Homo sapiens: one gene and its partner. The protein of the gene in region 2 interacts with the protein of the main gene of each other region in a pairwise test. Each region holds a gene or a part of one and is shown on either strand. Other genes may lie near its edges. The genes, in order: GLP1R and CELA3B.

The links.
Region 1: the proteins of CELA3B (region 2) and GLP1R interact in a protein complementation assay, tested with the Homo sapiens proteins (one study listed by BioGRID).

The regions. Positions count from the first base shown.
Region 1 is NC_000006.12:39,055,251-39,059,070, reverse strand, and holds part of GLP1R (glucagon-like peptide 1 receptor precursor), read right to left. Parts: intron 2,675-3,820; coding exon 2,578-2,674; intron 1,600-2,577; coding exon 1,492-1,599; intron 1-1,491.
Region 2 is NC_000001.11:21,986,760-21,989,912, reverse strand, and holds the end of CELA3B (chymotrypsin-like elastase family member 3B preproprotein), read right to left. Parts: intron 652-3,153; coding exon 634-651; 3' UTR 559-633; downstream 1-558. UniProt on the Homo sapiens protein: Efficient protease with alanine specificity but only little elastolytic activity.

The DNA of each region.
Region 1 (3,820 bases), on a different chromosome or scaffold from region 2:
GACAGTACTTTTAGGAGACCAGCCTGGGCCTCATCTGACTTCAGTCCCACGTGCCAAGGTGAAGCTTACATTGGGCCCCACCAGGCCACCTCCTCCAGGAAGACACCTGGCTTCCCCAGAGCATAACCTCATGCCCGCACTTGTTTCTGGGCCAGTTGCTGCTTGGGCTCCAGCCCCTTCAAGGTGTGATGATAGGAGCACGAATTGGATTCAAATCCTGGCTCTGCCATTGACCACATCATTTGGAACAAGTGACTTAAACTTTTTGTGCTTCAGTTTCCTCATCTGTACAGCAGGTATAACCACAGGGTAGTTATAAAGCCCTGCTTTTAGGGCAGGACTTGGCACACAGTAGGTACTCAATAAATGCTGGCTATGATGACGATGATGATGGTGATGGTGATGATGATGATGATGATGATGATGATAGGGAAATATCTTTTCTCCCCTTATGGAGACTGGGAGCTCCTTGCCATGAGGGTGCTTGTCTCCTGTTATCCTCCACGGTGCCTGGGTGAAACTGGGCTCAGCAAGGGAGGCTGGGATAGATAGCGGGGCACATTAACTAACCCTCCAGTCAGGGATCCTCTTGCAGCCTCTGCAAATCTCTGTACCCCCAATGAAATGACCTTCCCACCTACCCAGTCACATCTTCCCCAGTACAAGGTCCCCCTTGCAGGCAGGAGTGAGCTGAGGAGGGCTGAGTCTGGTGGGGTTCGTCACCCCACCAATGCCCTGATCACTTCTCCCAGTGAACCTCTAAAGAGTGAGGAAGTAGCTAAATGTCACTGCCAGGTATGGGCCACCTGCATACACATATCATACATACATGTATACACACAGCAGACACCCTGGGTAGCTTCCCTCCCCGCAAGAGTCTGTCCCCACCCAGCTCTTTTCCTGACTACTGAATTGGAAGGGGTCGCATTTCTCTTCAGACACTTACTTTCCCTTCCCCACACACTGGCCAGCACTGGCCTCACGCCCAGACCCAGGTGGTACCTCAGGCCATCATGAAACTTATCACTACTGACTGCTCCCCTCACCCCAGGAAAGGCAGGCGGACCACTCACTAGGAGGCCTAAAGACATTCTGGGTGGGGAGGGCTGTGTCTCAGAGGAAAGGAAGCAGCGCCTTGACCTCAGCCTCCTCGATACAGGGGACGGTGGGGGAGGGAGCTCACCACTGCTGACCCAGGGCAGGTACCAGGTCAGGGAGGGGGCTCACCACTGCTGACCCACGGCAGGTACCAGGTTAGGGAGGGGGCTCACCACTGCTGACCCACGGCAGGTACCAGGTTAGGGAGGGGGCTCACCACTGCTGGCCCAGGGCAGGTACCAGGTCAGGGAGGGGGCTCACCACTGCTGGCCCAGGGCAGGTATCAGGTCGGGGAGGGGGCTCACCACTGCTGGCCCAGGGCAGATACCAGGTCGGGGAGGGGGTTCACCACTGCTGGCCCAGGGCAGGTACCAGGTCGGGGAGGGGGCTCACCACTGCTGGCCCAGGGCAGGTACCAGGGGCAGCTGACATTCACGAACGAGCCTGGCTCCCCATCTGGCCAGCAGGCGTATTCATCGAAGGTCCGGTTGCAGAACAAGTCTGGGAGCAGAAAGAACAGTCTCTGAGTCCCTGCTTGTGACTGGCCATGGCCCTTTCCCTCCCTTCCCCAAGACCCCTCCCCTCCTCGGAGGCTGCATGCCACTAACCTCTGCTGAATGCTTACTGTATGCCAAGCACTTTCCCCACCCAGCAAGAGCCAAGCAGGGGCACTTGCCACTTATCAGTGGCAGGACCTTGAGCAAGTAACTTAATGTCTGTTTCCTGATCTGTAAAACAGGAGTATTTCCAGCCCCATAGGGTTTTGTGGGATCAAGACTATATGCTACATAGATAATGGAACATAGTACGTGCTCAATGAAAAATCCCTATGGGCCTATTCTTAAATTGCACTTCACAGATTAGAGGGAAATGTTAGCTTACCTTCCTTCTGATCTCACTTAAGATAACCTTCTTTAGGTCACGTGTTATAATTACAGTCAGGATTTCAACCTAGGCCCAGCGGGCTCCAATCCCGTGCTCTTTAAACCACCTTGTGAACTCCCTGAAACATTTATTCCTATAAATATGTTTGTGGAGCCCTCAGTCCATGCACAGGCTGGGAGGTGCTGAGGACAAAAATGGAAAGGCCGGGTGCCTGCTCTGAGAGGCTCTAGCTGGGGGGCTGGCCGGCGGTGCAGGGAAGGACACACAGATAAGACAGCTAAGACAGAAATAAGACAGCAACCCCAAAGCAGACTACAGCAAACGAGTAAGGGCCAAATGATGGCAGAAGTCCTGGGGAAGATTTTCTGGAGGAGGCAGTGCTTCCGCGGACTTTGAAGAAAAGGAAGATTTTGGTCGGCAGAAAGGAAGGTATCCAGGTGAAGGAGTAGCTTGGACAATGAGATGAAGGCAGAGGGCAGGGGTGGCATCCTATAGAGGCAAATGGCTCCCAGCCATGGACATTGAGTTCATCAAAGTCCTCCAGAAGTTGGTTGGGTGGGGAGCACTAAAGGTGGGGAGCCTACATGGACTCACCTGTGGCAGGAGGTGGATCCTCAGTCAGGGAGCGCTGGCACTGGCGTCGGTATTCTCGCCATTTCTGCACCGTCTCCCAGAGGGACACAGTGGCACCCTGGGGGGAGGGCATATATGGGAGGCCTGTGGGTTCAGCCAGCCCCTCTCCTGCCCCCTCACCCCCTAACACACTTGGTTTCTCAATCTCCATGAAACCTCAAAGCCCCAAATTCTGCCAGGCATCAGCCACCTCTGAAAGAGAGTGAGAATAAGTCACTGCCACCCAGGGGCCCCAGGTGGATGGTTTGACATCTTCATTCCTCCCAGGGTGCATAGCTTGATGTGTCACGAGCACCCAGCAAATGTCTGCTAAATTGATGCTTTTGGGGAGGTGGGTGGGTGAAGGAGGAAAGGAGCGTGTGTGTCTCATTTGTGATCTCTGATCTCACTTAGGAGAGAGACTTTCTGAGGGCCCAGGACTCTAAGCTCCTTCTGGCGCCTAGTCAGCCTGCCTGAGGGCTTCTTGCACTTTCAACCATTCTAGAAGAAGACACACAGGCCAGAGTGGGAGAGGAACTGAATCAAGGGTGCACAGCCCCCCCAGGAAGCAGAGTTAAGGCTAGAATCTGGAGTCCTTCAGATCAGTGACCATGGTAGAATATCGCAAGGTGTGCGGGGGCCGGGGAGAGTAGTGGCGTTCAGGGCTACAAAGAGCTGGGATGTCTGCCATTAGCATTCCTCCTCCAAAACGCACTCACTTACAGATGCACTCAACACAGCACCCCCCACCCCCTCCCCGTGCTCCCCTCTGACACAGCAACCAAATCTAATATTCAACCCAGCTTCTATCCACCCAAAGGAAGAGTCCTGAGGACATGAGGTGAAGGGGTCAGGGAGGTTCCAGAACACTGAAGTCACACGTGCAATGGGAGGGATCCCTCTCACCTGTGAGTAGGGAGAGCTGAGCCTCCACTTCCAGTGAGGTCACCGAAATGGCTTTTCAGCACACAGACCCAAACAGACCCATCCCACTGAGAATCCACCATTCCTTCTGAGTGTTTTTGTGCACTTCCTTCAGCTATGTCTTGGGGTTGTCGTTCTTTTTAGTTTTTTCCTGAACAGCCTTAAAAATTATAAATATTCGTCCTTCAGAGGCTGCAGATGCTGAAATGACCCAAGAGCCCCATGTATAAAATGTAGGACCCATACATAATTTAAAACAACATTTTGCTTTTTGAAATCACAAAAATGTCCACGTGTGCTG
Region 2 (3,153 bases):
CAGTTCTTTATAGCAGTATGAACACAGACTAAGAGAGCTATCTTTAAATAATGAGTCACTTCAGGGCAGGAACCATGTCTCCTTACCCCTCTGAGCCCTCCTTTAAAACAAGGAATAAGTGTTTGTTGAATGAATGAATAACCAAAGCCCCCAGCCCATCAGTGGAAGCAGATCACACATTGTCCTTCCCACTCTACCATGAGCCTGCTGAGGGGCTGGCAGGGTCTGTTTATCTGCAGATTTTTACCATGTTTATATGCCTGCATTGAAAAGCTACTGACTTATGTGCGACTATATACTAAGGCGACCAACTTGTCCCATTTTTCCTGGTACCTTCCCAGTTTTAGCATTAAATGTCCAGTGTCTTCACTCCTGAAGTTCCAGGCAAACCAGGATGGTCAGGTCACCGCACAGCAACTCCCTTCTCTCCCAGCATCATTTTTCCCTCATCTTCGTATGAAAGGGTTGGACCTGGTCCTGTCTCTGCATATGAGATCTAAGATTTTAGGAACAGGCCAGAGGGGAAGAGGTGAGTCAACAAAGAAAGAAAGATTCAACTTGGAATTTTCTGAGAGATCTTTATTCTTTATTCAGGATGTGGGATCGATCAGCACTGCCAGCTGGGCCTTGGTTCTAGTGGCTTGCTATGGTCTGGAAAAGTTGGGGGGGCAGACAGAATAGTCAATTTAGGAGCACAGGTTCTGGAGTCAGATGAAACTGGGTTCAACTTCCAGCCCTGCTGTGTGACCCTGGGAGAGGAATTGACCTCTCTGAGCCTCAGTTTCCTCCTCTATGTAGTAGGGATAATGATAGAACTTACCTCATGGGGGGGTTCTTGATTAAATTGTTAACTAAGGTTCTCTCTACAATGGCCAGCATGAATTTAGATGGGATGTGTGCATAGATATATATACATATATATGTGTGTGTGTGTATATATATACGTCTGTGTGTGTATATATATGTATGTATGTATGTATGTATATAAACAAAATATATATTTTTGGAGTTTTTTTTCTTTTTGAGACAGAGTCTCACTCTGTTGCCCAGGCTGGAGTGCAGTGGCACAATCTCAGCTCACCGCAACCTCCACCTCTTGGGTTCATGCCATTCTCCTGCCTCAGCCTCCCAAGTAGCTGGGACTACAGGCGTACGCCACCATGCCTGGCTAATTTTTGTATTTTTAGTAGAGACAGGGTTTCACCTTGTTAGCCAGGATGGTCTCAATCTCCTGACCTTGTGATCTGCCCACCTCAGCCTCCCAAAGTGGTGGGATTACAGGCATGAGCCACCATGCCCGGCTTTTTTTTTTTTTTTTTTTTAAGATGGAGTCTTGCTCTGTCGCCCAGGCTGGAGGGCAGTGGTGCAATCTTGGCTCACTGCAACTTCTGCCTCCCGAGTTCAAGCAATTCTTCTACCTCAGCCTCCCAAGTAGCTGAGATTACAGCCATGCAGCACCACGCCCAGCCAATTTTTTTATATTTTTGTAGAGACAGGATTTCACCATATTGGCCAGGCTGGTCTCGAACTCCTGACCTTATGATCTGCCTGCCTCGGCCTACCAAATTGCTGGGATTACAGGCATGAGCCACCGTGCCTGGCCTTATATATATATTTTTTTAACATGGGTCAGGGAACCAAGGGATTAAATGGTCTATAAATCATCACTGTTTTTTTGTTTGTTTGTTTGTTTTTGTTTTTGAGATGGAGTCTTGCTCTGTCACCCAGGCTGGAGTGCAGTGGCGTAATCTCGGCGCACTGCAACCTCCGCCTCCCAGATTCAAGCAGTTCTCCTGCCTCAGCCTCCTGAGTAGCTGGGACCACAGGCATGCACCAATACGCCCGGCTAATTTTTTGTATTCTTAGTAGAGATGGGGTTTCACCATGTCGGCCAGGCTGGTCTTGAACTCCTGACCTCAGGTGATCCATACGCCTCGGCCTCCCAGAGTGCTGGGATTACATGCATGAACCACTGTACTTGGCCAGAAATGTTTTTTTAATGGAAGCCTTCATGACTTTGCATGTCATCCTTGCGCAGGGGCCGTGCTAATCTCTATATCATTCCAATTTTAGTACATGTGCTGCCAAAGCAAGCACTACTGTTTTATTTTATTTAGTTTATTTTCATTTTTTTAAGAGAGAGGCTCTTGCTGTGTTGCCCAGGCTGGAGTACAGTGGCTATTCACAGGTGTGATCCTACTACTTTTCAGCATGTGAGTTTTGACCTGCTCTGTTTCTGACCTGGGACAGTTCACCCCTCCTTAGGCCACCTGGTGGTCCCCACTCCCAGGAGGTCACCACATGGATGCCAAACTTGGTGCAGAACCAGATGGGTATAGCGCACTATGGCCCAGAACTCCAGGGCTCAACCGATCCTCCTGCCTCAGCCTCCCAAGTAGCTGGGACTACAGGTGGGCATCACTGCACCCAGCTAGCTATTACTCTTTTTTTTTTTTTTTTTGAGACGGAGTCTCGCTCTGTCACCTAGGCTGCAGTGCAGTGGTATGATCTCGACTAACTGCAACCTCCGTCTCCCAGGTTCAAGCAGTTCTCTGCCTCAGCCTCCCGAGCAGCTGGGATTACAGGCACCCACCACCATGCCCGGCTAATTTTTGTATTTTTAGTAGAGACAGGGTTTCACCATCTTGGCCAGGCTGGTCTTGAACTCCTGACCTTGTGATCCACCTGCCTCTGCTTCCCAAAGTGCTGGGATTACTGGCATGACTACTCCATGCCCAGCTATTACTCTTTTTTTTTTTCTTTTTTTTTTTTGTTTAGCTATTACTGTTATCAGGAGTGTTATTAGTCCTCTCTGATCACCCATCCCCAGATGAAGTCTGGGGCCTGGACTCCCCTCTCTCGGCTCTCATCAGACTGCATCGTTCTCATTCATGTAATCACCTGTCCCCCACCAGGCAGCCTCTTGTCTGGCATGTCTCTCTATCCTCCCTGACAAGAGAGGACAAGACCAGAGGAGATACTTTATAAATACTTGTTGAAATAAGGAAGTTCAGCTGTAGTTCCAAGCACCACCCAGAAGCCATCAAGTTCCTGGGGTCACACTGTATCAGAAAACATCCCCAAGCCTTTCTGGAATGTCCCCAAGGGCCCTTCCCCACTGAGCTTCTAGGATCCTTTCAGGCCCTCCCCAGG